Regions from separate parts of the Homo sapiens genome. Here region 1 is linked to region 2. The links come from fine-mapping of genetic effects on gene expression. A gene starts in region 2. The other region holds a variant in brackets. All regions are shown on one strand. Distances are from middle to middle. Region 1 overlaps CHSY1 (chondroitin sulfate synthase 1). Region 2 holds the start of CHSY1 (chondroitin sulfate synthase 1).

Region 1 (4,268 bases), 46 kb before region 2:
GGGTGAGGCAGGAGAATCACTTGAACCCGGGAGATGGAGGGTGCAGTGAGTCGAGATCGTGCCATTGCACTCTAGACTGGGCAGTAAGAGCGAAACTCCATCTCAAATAATAATAATAATAATAATAATAATAATAATAATGTACACTTATAGAGAAAATGATAAAGCTGATGTGGTAAATATTAATAATCAGGGAATTTGGGTGAAAGACTTATAGGAGTTTTCTATTAAGTTAAATTTTTTCAAAATAAAAATTGCCCCCCAAAAAACAGTGGTTAAAAATGACCATCCAGCTGGGCATGGTGGCTCACACCTGTAATCCCAGCACTTTGGGAGGCCAAGGTAGGCAGATCACTTGAGGACAGGGGTTCAAGACCAGCCTGACTGACATAATGAAACCCCATTTCTACTAAAACTACAAAAAATTAGCTGGGGATGGTGGCACACACCTATAATCCCAGCTGTTCAGGAGGCTGAGGCACAAGAATTGCTTGAACCCAGGAGCCGAAAGTTGCAGTGAGCCAAGGTCACACCACAGCATTCCAGCCTGGGCACTAGAACGAGACTCCATCCCCCCGCCACACACACAAAAAAGACCATCTGGCAGAGTTAAGAATACTGTCACTTGGCGAAGATCATAGTAACTAATTTTTCGCAATACTACATACTCTATCCACCAGCAAATCATGAAAGTATGGCTAACAGATTTCTAAACAGCTCTTTAACTACTCAGAGAGATTTTCAGAAGCATAAAGCAAGAAGTTTTTCCTCTGTAATCTATTTTTATTAAGCTTAAAGTTCTAATATTTTATCTTTTTTTTTCTTTTTTTAAAGTAATCAACATGGCAATACCTCATATGCTTGAGGTTTCCTGGACAAAACCCTATTACTATTTCTGTCTCTAATTCATCCTTTTTGCCTGCTGTGCTGTGGGCATGACATCAATTTATTATAACCAATAATTTCCAGTGCCTCCCAGTCACTAAATTGCCACCACACACACATGATTCAGAGGAAAGAAACTAGAACCAGCATACTCTTCAGTTGTTTAAGAAAAAGCCTGGTCTTTATATTTCCCCATTTATATAAACAAGCTAGTAATCAATTGACATAGACTCCACAATGTTTCCTGATAACTAGAGAAAACACACAGGTCTACCAGATGTTTATAGCTACTTGTGAAAAGACACATACCCAAACCTGAAGAGTACTGTGATCACAAAACTGAGCTTGATTTTTCTACTAACGACTATTAGTATTAGCAGCCTGACATTTAAACACACAAACCCATACATGCTTATTCTGCTCTAAGTGAAGAATTTTAATTTTGAAGATTGTTGGCCGGGCGTGGTGGCTCACACCTGTAATCCCAGTACTTTGGGAGGCTGAGGTGGGTGGATCACGAGATCAGGAGATCGAGACCATCCTGGATAAAACGGTGAAACCCCGTCTCTACTAAAAATACAAAAAATTAGCTGGGCGTGGTGGTGGGCGCCCGTAGTCCCAGCTACTCAGGGGGGCTGAGGCAGGAGAATGGCGTGAACCCAGGAGGCGGAGCTTGCAGTGAGCCGAGATAGCGCCACTACACTCCAGCCTGGGCGAAAGAGAGAGACTCCGTCTCAAAAAAAAAAAAAGAAGATTGTTTATTAATTTGCTCTACCCCATGATCCTGGTATGGTAGTGTTTTCTATTTCAAGTTCCTATAGACAGTAATACGCTCCATCACTAAGGCAGCAGGATTCCAGGACATTTGATTTTTGATATATGCTTCATAAC[G/A]TTTGCAATACTAAATGAGAAGTTTAATTTCAAACTCCAATCTCTGTCTGCTCTCCTTTCTCTCCCCGGGTGAGCCTCTGAGGCGAGAGGTTTGATTCAGGAGATAAGACTAGGGCTGCACAGGCATGGTGTGCCTCGTGCGCCACGGAGTGAAACTAGACAGACAAGGGAAAACCCACCAGGTCTCGAGTCGGCAGGAGAACCAACGACCAGGTATTTGTTTCTAAAGACTCATATGATCCACTGAAGAGAACCACTGAGTCAGAGGCAGGGGTGGAGGTCGCAGTGAGGGAGGACATGGCACACTACCCACAGGCAGGGGTAGCAGCTCCCACTGTGGGGTTAGTCATCAGCTGGGGCTCTGAAGGCGGTGACGTGCTAAGTGACAGATCACCACCAAGATCCGTTTCCCATGAAAACACTTTGGAAAGAAGCTTTTATGTGGGCTCACTTTATACAAATAACACTTCAGAAAATAAACGAACACTCATTAAATTATGCACCAAAAGAAAGTAAACTGTGGAAGCTAGAAGAGACAGCAGTGTTAGATATTAATTAATAGGCTACAGAGAAGAAGAAATACATTTATCATCTGTGAGAAAACATGTAGGTTTGTCATTTTATTTTCCCTACACAGAAGCAGCCATAATGGCAGAGAGAGTGAACAAATATTCCCAGGGTTTTGGGGCACAGCCTAAAATAGTCCTCCAAAAAATACCAAATTTCTTTTCTCATTTTTAATCATAAAAATTCACACTAATTTGCAATGATACTCTAGGACACCCATGTTTATCTCATAAAAAAAGTCTCTCTCCCAGACCTCAGGTAAAATTAATGTTCTAGGAACGTATGCCACGCATTTCCACTGGCTATCCAGTACCACTCTCGCGTGTCAGCACATTCCAAAATTAGTTTAATTTAAAAGAAACAAGACCAAACAAAACAAAGCCAAAAGGAAACAAACAAAACCTAAAAGGGGAAAAATCCTACTAAGATAACTGAAACAAATATTGTCTAATATATTTCTCAGAAAGGGTCTACTCTTGACAAATGTTTTTTATATTAACACAGCATTTGCAGTCAAAAGAAAAATAAGCCACTCACTATCCAAAATGGGAATAAAAGTCTTTTCTTCTATACCTCATTTTTGGAAATAAAAAGTCTTTGGCTGAAAGCAAAGGAAAGAGTTACGTCCACATAACCCTTCAGAATGGGAAGAATCAGCGTCACCAAGTCTTCACTTCGCCAACTAACAACAGTATTTTAAAAATTGTTCATTCTGATTTTTAGAACCAACTCATGATGCTGGCTATCTGTGAACAACAATACCTTCTAGTATGTTATATAATATTTCATTTCAATGTTAACAGGATATTTTTCTTAAATTTCCAGGTGCCTCTCTCATATGCTCTGTATCTGTTAATTCATCAAACACTCAAGTGCCTCATATGTTAACCTCTAAATGGAATACAGAAATAATTAAGACAAGACCCAATCTACTAGAAAAAAAAAGTTGAATATTTGGCACAAATAAACACTCAAAGAAAATAGATCTTCCAGAATATACTATCCAAGCAAATATTCAGTCTTGCTAAATTTACCAACAGGTTTTTAAAATCCTCTGAGAATGAGGGCTGCGTTGCCATGTGACACAGGTAGTACCTGGAATCTAGTAACTAAAATTGAAAAGCTTATTTCAAGATGGAGTTAGGCTTCTTGCCCCTGCCCCACCCGTTGTCCTGAAGTAAAAAGCCACTAGTGGGGTCAAGCAAGATAGGGTCCCCAGATGGGGTGAGGGTGGGCTGGTGCAGTGGCCCAGCCTTGGGGCGTCAGGTAGGCCGCCAACCCTTGAGTTGAGTCACATAGGGAAGGCACCGGGAAGGAGGCATTGCAACAGAGGATTGCTCACTTACAGCGGAAACTGATGCAGTAAGTAAATGTGGCTGAGGCCAATGAGCAGCTAGATTTCTCAACTGTCAAATAAAGCAATTACAAATACAGAAAGGGAGAGAAGAGGAAGAACCCTTTGGGGTTGAAATGGGATTTGGAGTATCAGGGGGAACCCAAGGACACACACACACATGCACATTTTCCCCTGGTCAGCCCACTGCTCAGGAGTGGGCCAGCCAACACCCACAGCAACGAGCACACCCACAGTCTAGATCTTGGCTTCTAAATGTTTTCCACTAAAAAGAACCAGAGACTCTTCGAGAGATGGCAGACTGCAAGGCTAGGGCAGGGAAAAAATAACAGCCTGAAACATCTTAGTATGCCAGAAAGAAATTGCTCAAACAGTTATAGGGGCATATCAAAAAGATACAGAAGGCCAGTCATGGTGCCTCATGCCTGGAATCCCAGCACTTTGGGAACCCAAGGCGGGTGGATCATTTGAGGTCAGGAGTTCGAGACCAGCCTGACCAACATGGTGAAACCCCGTCTCTACTAAAAATACAAAAATTAGCCAGGTATGGTGGCGGACGCCTGTAATACCA
Region 2 (4,268 bases):
CCTTTGTTAAACCTGAACACAATTCCAGCTGCTTTTATGACTCATTTGGCCAACTAGAGCCCAGTTACTGGATAACATGCATACACCACCAAGCTGAACTAATTAACACCAGAATGCAGTTTTCCACTGAATCTACCAAGGGCCAAGAACTGCTTTTCCCCAAGGTTCTCTCTCTCTGTACTCAACAGACTGGTGTGGTCCAATATGCTGCGGGCATTCTCTTTCATTTATAGGAGTGCCTCCAACTGCGAAATGTGAGAGTATGATGTGGAAAGGTTCTAGAACTAGATTAACGTACACGGGCTCCAGCTTTGCAAGGACAAAGGTGCACATTTTAGGGAATCCAGTATCAGCCCCAACTGCCTCCACTATCAGGTACTGTGCTATGAGTTTTCCAACATTATGAGGGAGACCCGATCTGTCGGGCCCTTCTAACGAGAAGCTTCGATTTGCAAAGGCTAAAGTGCCTTCATCAGGGTGAGAGGTACACCCAGCGAGGCCACACTAGTCCATCTGACCCCAAAGGCCATGTTCCTGAGCGCCGCGCTCACCATCCCGCCTCTGATCTTTTCTCCCTCGGCCCGGCGTCTCCCGAGAGGCAACCCGATCCCGCCGGAAGCCCAAGAAGGGCCTAGGAAGCGGGCGGAGGCGAGAGCCAGGAGAGCACCCGGGATGCCGGCCGCCGGGATGCCGGACGCAGGAGGCGGTGCCCGGGGAGCAGGGGCTCACCTGTAGGCGGCCACGGCCCGAGTCTGCAGGTATTTCTGGGCGGTCATGACTCCCACGAAGAGAAAGTTCCTGTCGCGCGGGCCGCCATCTGGGTCCGAGCCGGGCGGCCAGAGCTGCGCCCCGCGCGCATCGCCGCGCGCCCCGCCGGCCTGGGAAGCCGCCGCCTGCCCGGACCGGCAGCCCTCGGGGCTGGCGCGGCGCCGTGGGCCCGCTCGCTTCAGCTCGGAAGCCCGGGGCAGGACGAGCCGCGAGGCCAGCACGAAGCCCAGGACGAGCCCGAGCAGCACGCTGAGCCAGGCGCGCCGGCCGCGCGCGGCCATGCCCGCGCCGCTCCGCCCGCCGGGCCGCCGCCGCAGGCTCCGCGCGCCCTCAGCCCGCTGCCCCCGCCCGCGGAGGCCAGCCCGCCCTAGCGCCGCGAGGCCCGGCCCGGGCAGCGCCGCCGCCGCCGCGGGCCCGCCGCGCCCATCGCGGCCCCCGAGCCGCCCGCAGGCCCCGCGCCGGCGCTTTGTTCCGCACGCCCGCCCCCGCCGCCGCGGCCTGCGCCTTTAAGAGGGGACCATGCCCGGCGCGCGCTAGCGGCGGCTCGGGCGCGAGGTGGCGGCGGCTCCTCCCGCTCGCGCGCGGGGACGCGGGGCCGGCACGACGGCGACGACGGCGGCGGCAGACGAGTCCGGGCTCCCGTCCCGCCCTGCCCGCGTCCTCCGGCTGGCTGGGCTCGGTTCGCACGGCGCCTGTCCCCGTCCTCTTCGTAGCCGGCGCCGCCGCCGCAGCTGCACATCCTCCGGCTTAGCTCGCCATTGCAACAGGAGCCCCTCACGTCACGCACGGCGCGTTATGAAGTGGCCCCGCCGGCGGCGAGCCGTGGCCCCTCTCGGGATCCGTCCGCGCCGCGCGATTGGCGCAAAAGTGAATGAGGGGCGGTTCACGTGGCCGAAGTTTGACCAAAAAAAAAAAAAGCCCTCTCGGGCGCCCCGCCCGCGCGGTCTGCGACTGGAGCTGGCGGGCGGAGGGGGCGTGGGCCCCCGCCCGGCGCCCGCGGGGCCGGAGCTGCCCGTGATCCGCACCTAGCACCCGGCGCAAGGGCGTCCCCGCGAGGACGGCCGCTTCCCGCACCGCGGCGCCCGGGCGCGAATCTCGGGAGCCAGCCTTGCAGTGGGGGCTTCTCGGCCCCCAGACTCCACGCTGCGCACGTTCCTCCCGCACGGGCCGTCCTCGCTGCACCCCACGGCCACGCCCTTCCTGCCGCCGGGCCGGCCCCGCGCTCCCGGCCCCGCGCTCCCGACCACACTGCAGCTTTGTCCGCAGTCCCGCGGCCGCACGCAGGGAACAGCCGTCCCGGAGCCCTGGGGACGTGCGCGCCTGCGAGTGGACCGTGAATTCAGTTACCTTGTTCCCTGTTGCTAGTTTCTACGCTAAATAAGAAGAAGAAGAAGAAAAAGCCATCTTTAATACTTAAGGTCCACGCTTCTCATACAGTACTAGCATTTAATGGATCTCGAAGACAAGGAAAATGAAGTTAATGCCCTGGATGGTAAACCCTACTTTCATTTACATACTGTGTGGGCAGATAGCCGGCTAGTACCCCCAGCCTGGGACTTTGTCCCTACTTTAATATAGTCCGTCTGTAAAAGTGCCGTGGATTTCTAAAGACGGATTTTGGGTCCCAGATCCTCTACTCTGGATTTTAAGTTTTATACATTTCCTCTGCAATACTTCAGCTAAGGCAGCAAAAGCGGAGGTCTCCATACAACGAAAGTTTGTGTAGAGTTTCAGTCTTGTTACTTAGTCACCAGTATATTGGGGTTTTCTAATGAAACTTTTGAAGGGCAAAGTGTTTCCCTGGGCCTGAGAAGTTACCTGCATTGAATCAAATAAACACATGCCTGGGGCAATCCTTGGATCTTTCTTCATTGTTGACCAAATGGTTGAAATACTATCACACAGTTTAAAATGCCTGTGGGAGCTTCAGATACCTTCTCGGCACCTGAATGGTGGTCACTCTTGTTTATTCTTTGGATATTACCACTTTCTTTGACACTTGTGATTTATATTAAAAATAGTTCATTACCTACCTTCCCACAGAGCCCCTCCCTAAGGGGTGATCCACATCTAAAAATAAAATACTCATTATGCAGTGAATACAGGATTCCAGCAGTGGTCTTGGGAAAAATACAGAACATACAACCATGAATTACAGGCTCGAAAACCATCGAAAAAGGTTTCCACTAAGACCATAAACCACAAATGCCGAGGAGTCACCAGATCCCCCAAATTCAGCAGCCCCATCATTCACAGTGATTTACATGAAGTACGAATCTGGCCAGATTCAGATGTTCAATTTTGTAGCATATTCAACGATTTCAGTATTTTCTAACCTGCTTTAGACTTACCTAGTTTTCTTCGAAACTAGTGTCCAGTGAAAAGCTGGCCGGGCGCGGTGGCTCACGCCTGTAAACCCAGCACTCTGGGAGGCTGAGGCGGGCGGATCGCCTGAGGTCAGGAGTTCGAGACCAACCTGACCAACATGGAGAAACCCCGACTCTACTAAAAATACAAAATTAGCCGGGGGTGGTGGTGCATGCCTGTAATCCCAGCTACTCGGGAGGCTGAGGCAGGAGAATCGCTTGAACCCGGGAGGTGGAGGTTGCTGTGAGCCGAGATCGTGCCATTGCATTGCACTGCAGCCTGGGCGACAACAGCGAAACTCCGTCTCAAGGAAAAAAAAAAAAAAAGTATATAAATATCTGATGGGAATAATATTCTGAGGATGCCAAATATTTTGTCCTCCTCAATATCCTGGTTCCTAGTTGTCCCTCAGTTCCTAGGTTAACAGTCTCACCTGTCTCACCTGCAGGCTTAATGGGGGTCTTTCGTAATGTAGAAAGGATACCCTTTTCTTTGTAAAGGCTGAGCCTGAGGGCTTACAATTCCCTGGAGAAGGAGAGTAAGACATACGGGAACTCCCTCTGGGAGAAGAGGGATATGCCAGGCCAAGAGAGGGTTGGAAGGAGAAGAGAGAAACTGAGGTCCTGTAGAAGTCTGCCAGGGGCAGGGACCAATTCCGGCATGCAGCCTAGGAGCAGGAGGGCAAGCTCTAGCACATCTGGAAGGAGCAGCTGGATTGTTGAGCTGAGGCAGTTCTCCTGGGGAAGAATCCAAAAGTGTCCCAGTAAGGGGCCTGGCTCAGGAGACAAGGCTATCCTAAGTGGGGATTTCACAGCCAGTAGCAAATACCTGGAATCAAGAACTTCAGTGACAGCCAGAGACCCAAACAGCTGGACAGGACTGGTACCCCCAGTATGAAGGCCTGTCCCATGCCCAGCCCCACTAGTCAATACCAGCAAGGAGCCAGGGAGGACAACGAGGGTCTGGAACATCTGCCCCCAATGCACACACATGCGTCCTTCCCCACAGCCCCCTGGAGGCCAAGGCTGTCCTCATCCTAAAGCCCCCTCACCCTAAGTAATTTTTAAAGGTAAGGAGTAGGCAGGGTGATTCGCATTTATAGGGATTTCACTGCAGGGAGCTGAGGAAAGACT

Evidence for each region. PIP is the estimated chance that this variant, and not a neighbour inherited with it, causes the effect. A credible set is the group of variants that fine-mapping cannot tell apart.
Region 1: its variant is the best candidate, but not a certain one, in a credible set for the expression of CHSY1 in whole blood (INTERVAL, PIP 0.81).

What each region holds. Positions count from the first base shown.
Region 1 is chr15:101,204,331-101,208,598 of GRCh38, forward strand. All of the region lies in intron 2 of CHSY1 (chondroitin sulfate synthase 1), which reads right to left. Among named protein-coding and RNA genes, the nearest start is that of CHSY1, 46 kb to the right of the region's middle. RefSeq lists a silencer at 1,399-1,564. The variant G/A (reference allele first, on the strand shown) is at 1,777.
Region 2 is chr15:101,250,408-101,254,675 of GRCh38, forward strand. It overlaps CHSY1 (chondroitin sulfate synthase 1), which reads right to left and starts at 1,641. Exons shown (of 3, transcript NM_014918.5): 1 at 730-1,641. The coding sequence starts at 1,049. RefSeq lists silencers at 626-1,055, 1,246-1,555, 1,726-2,105.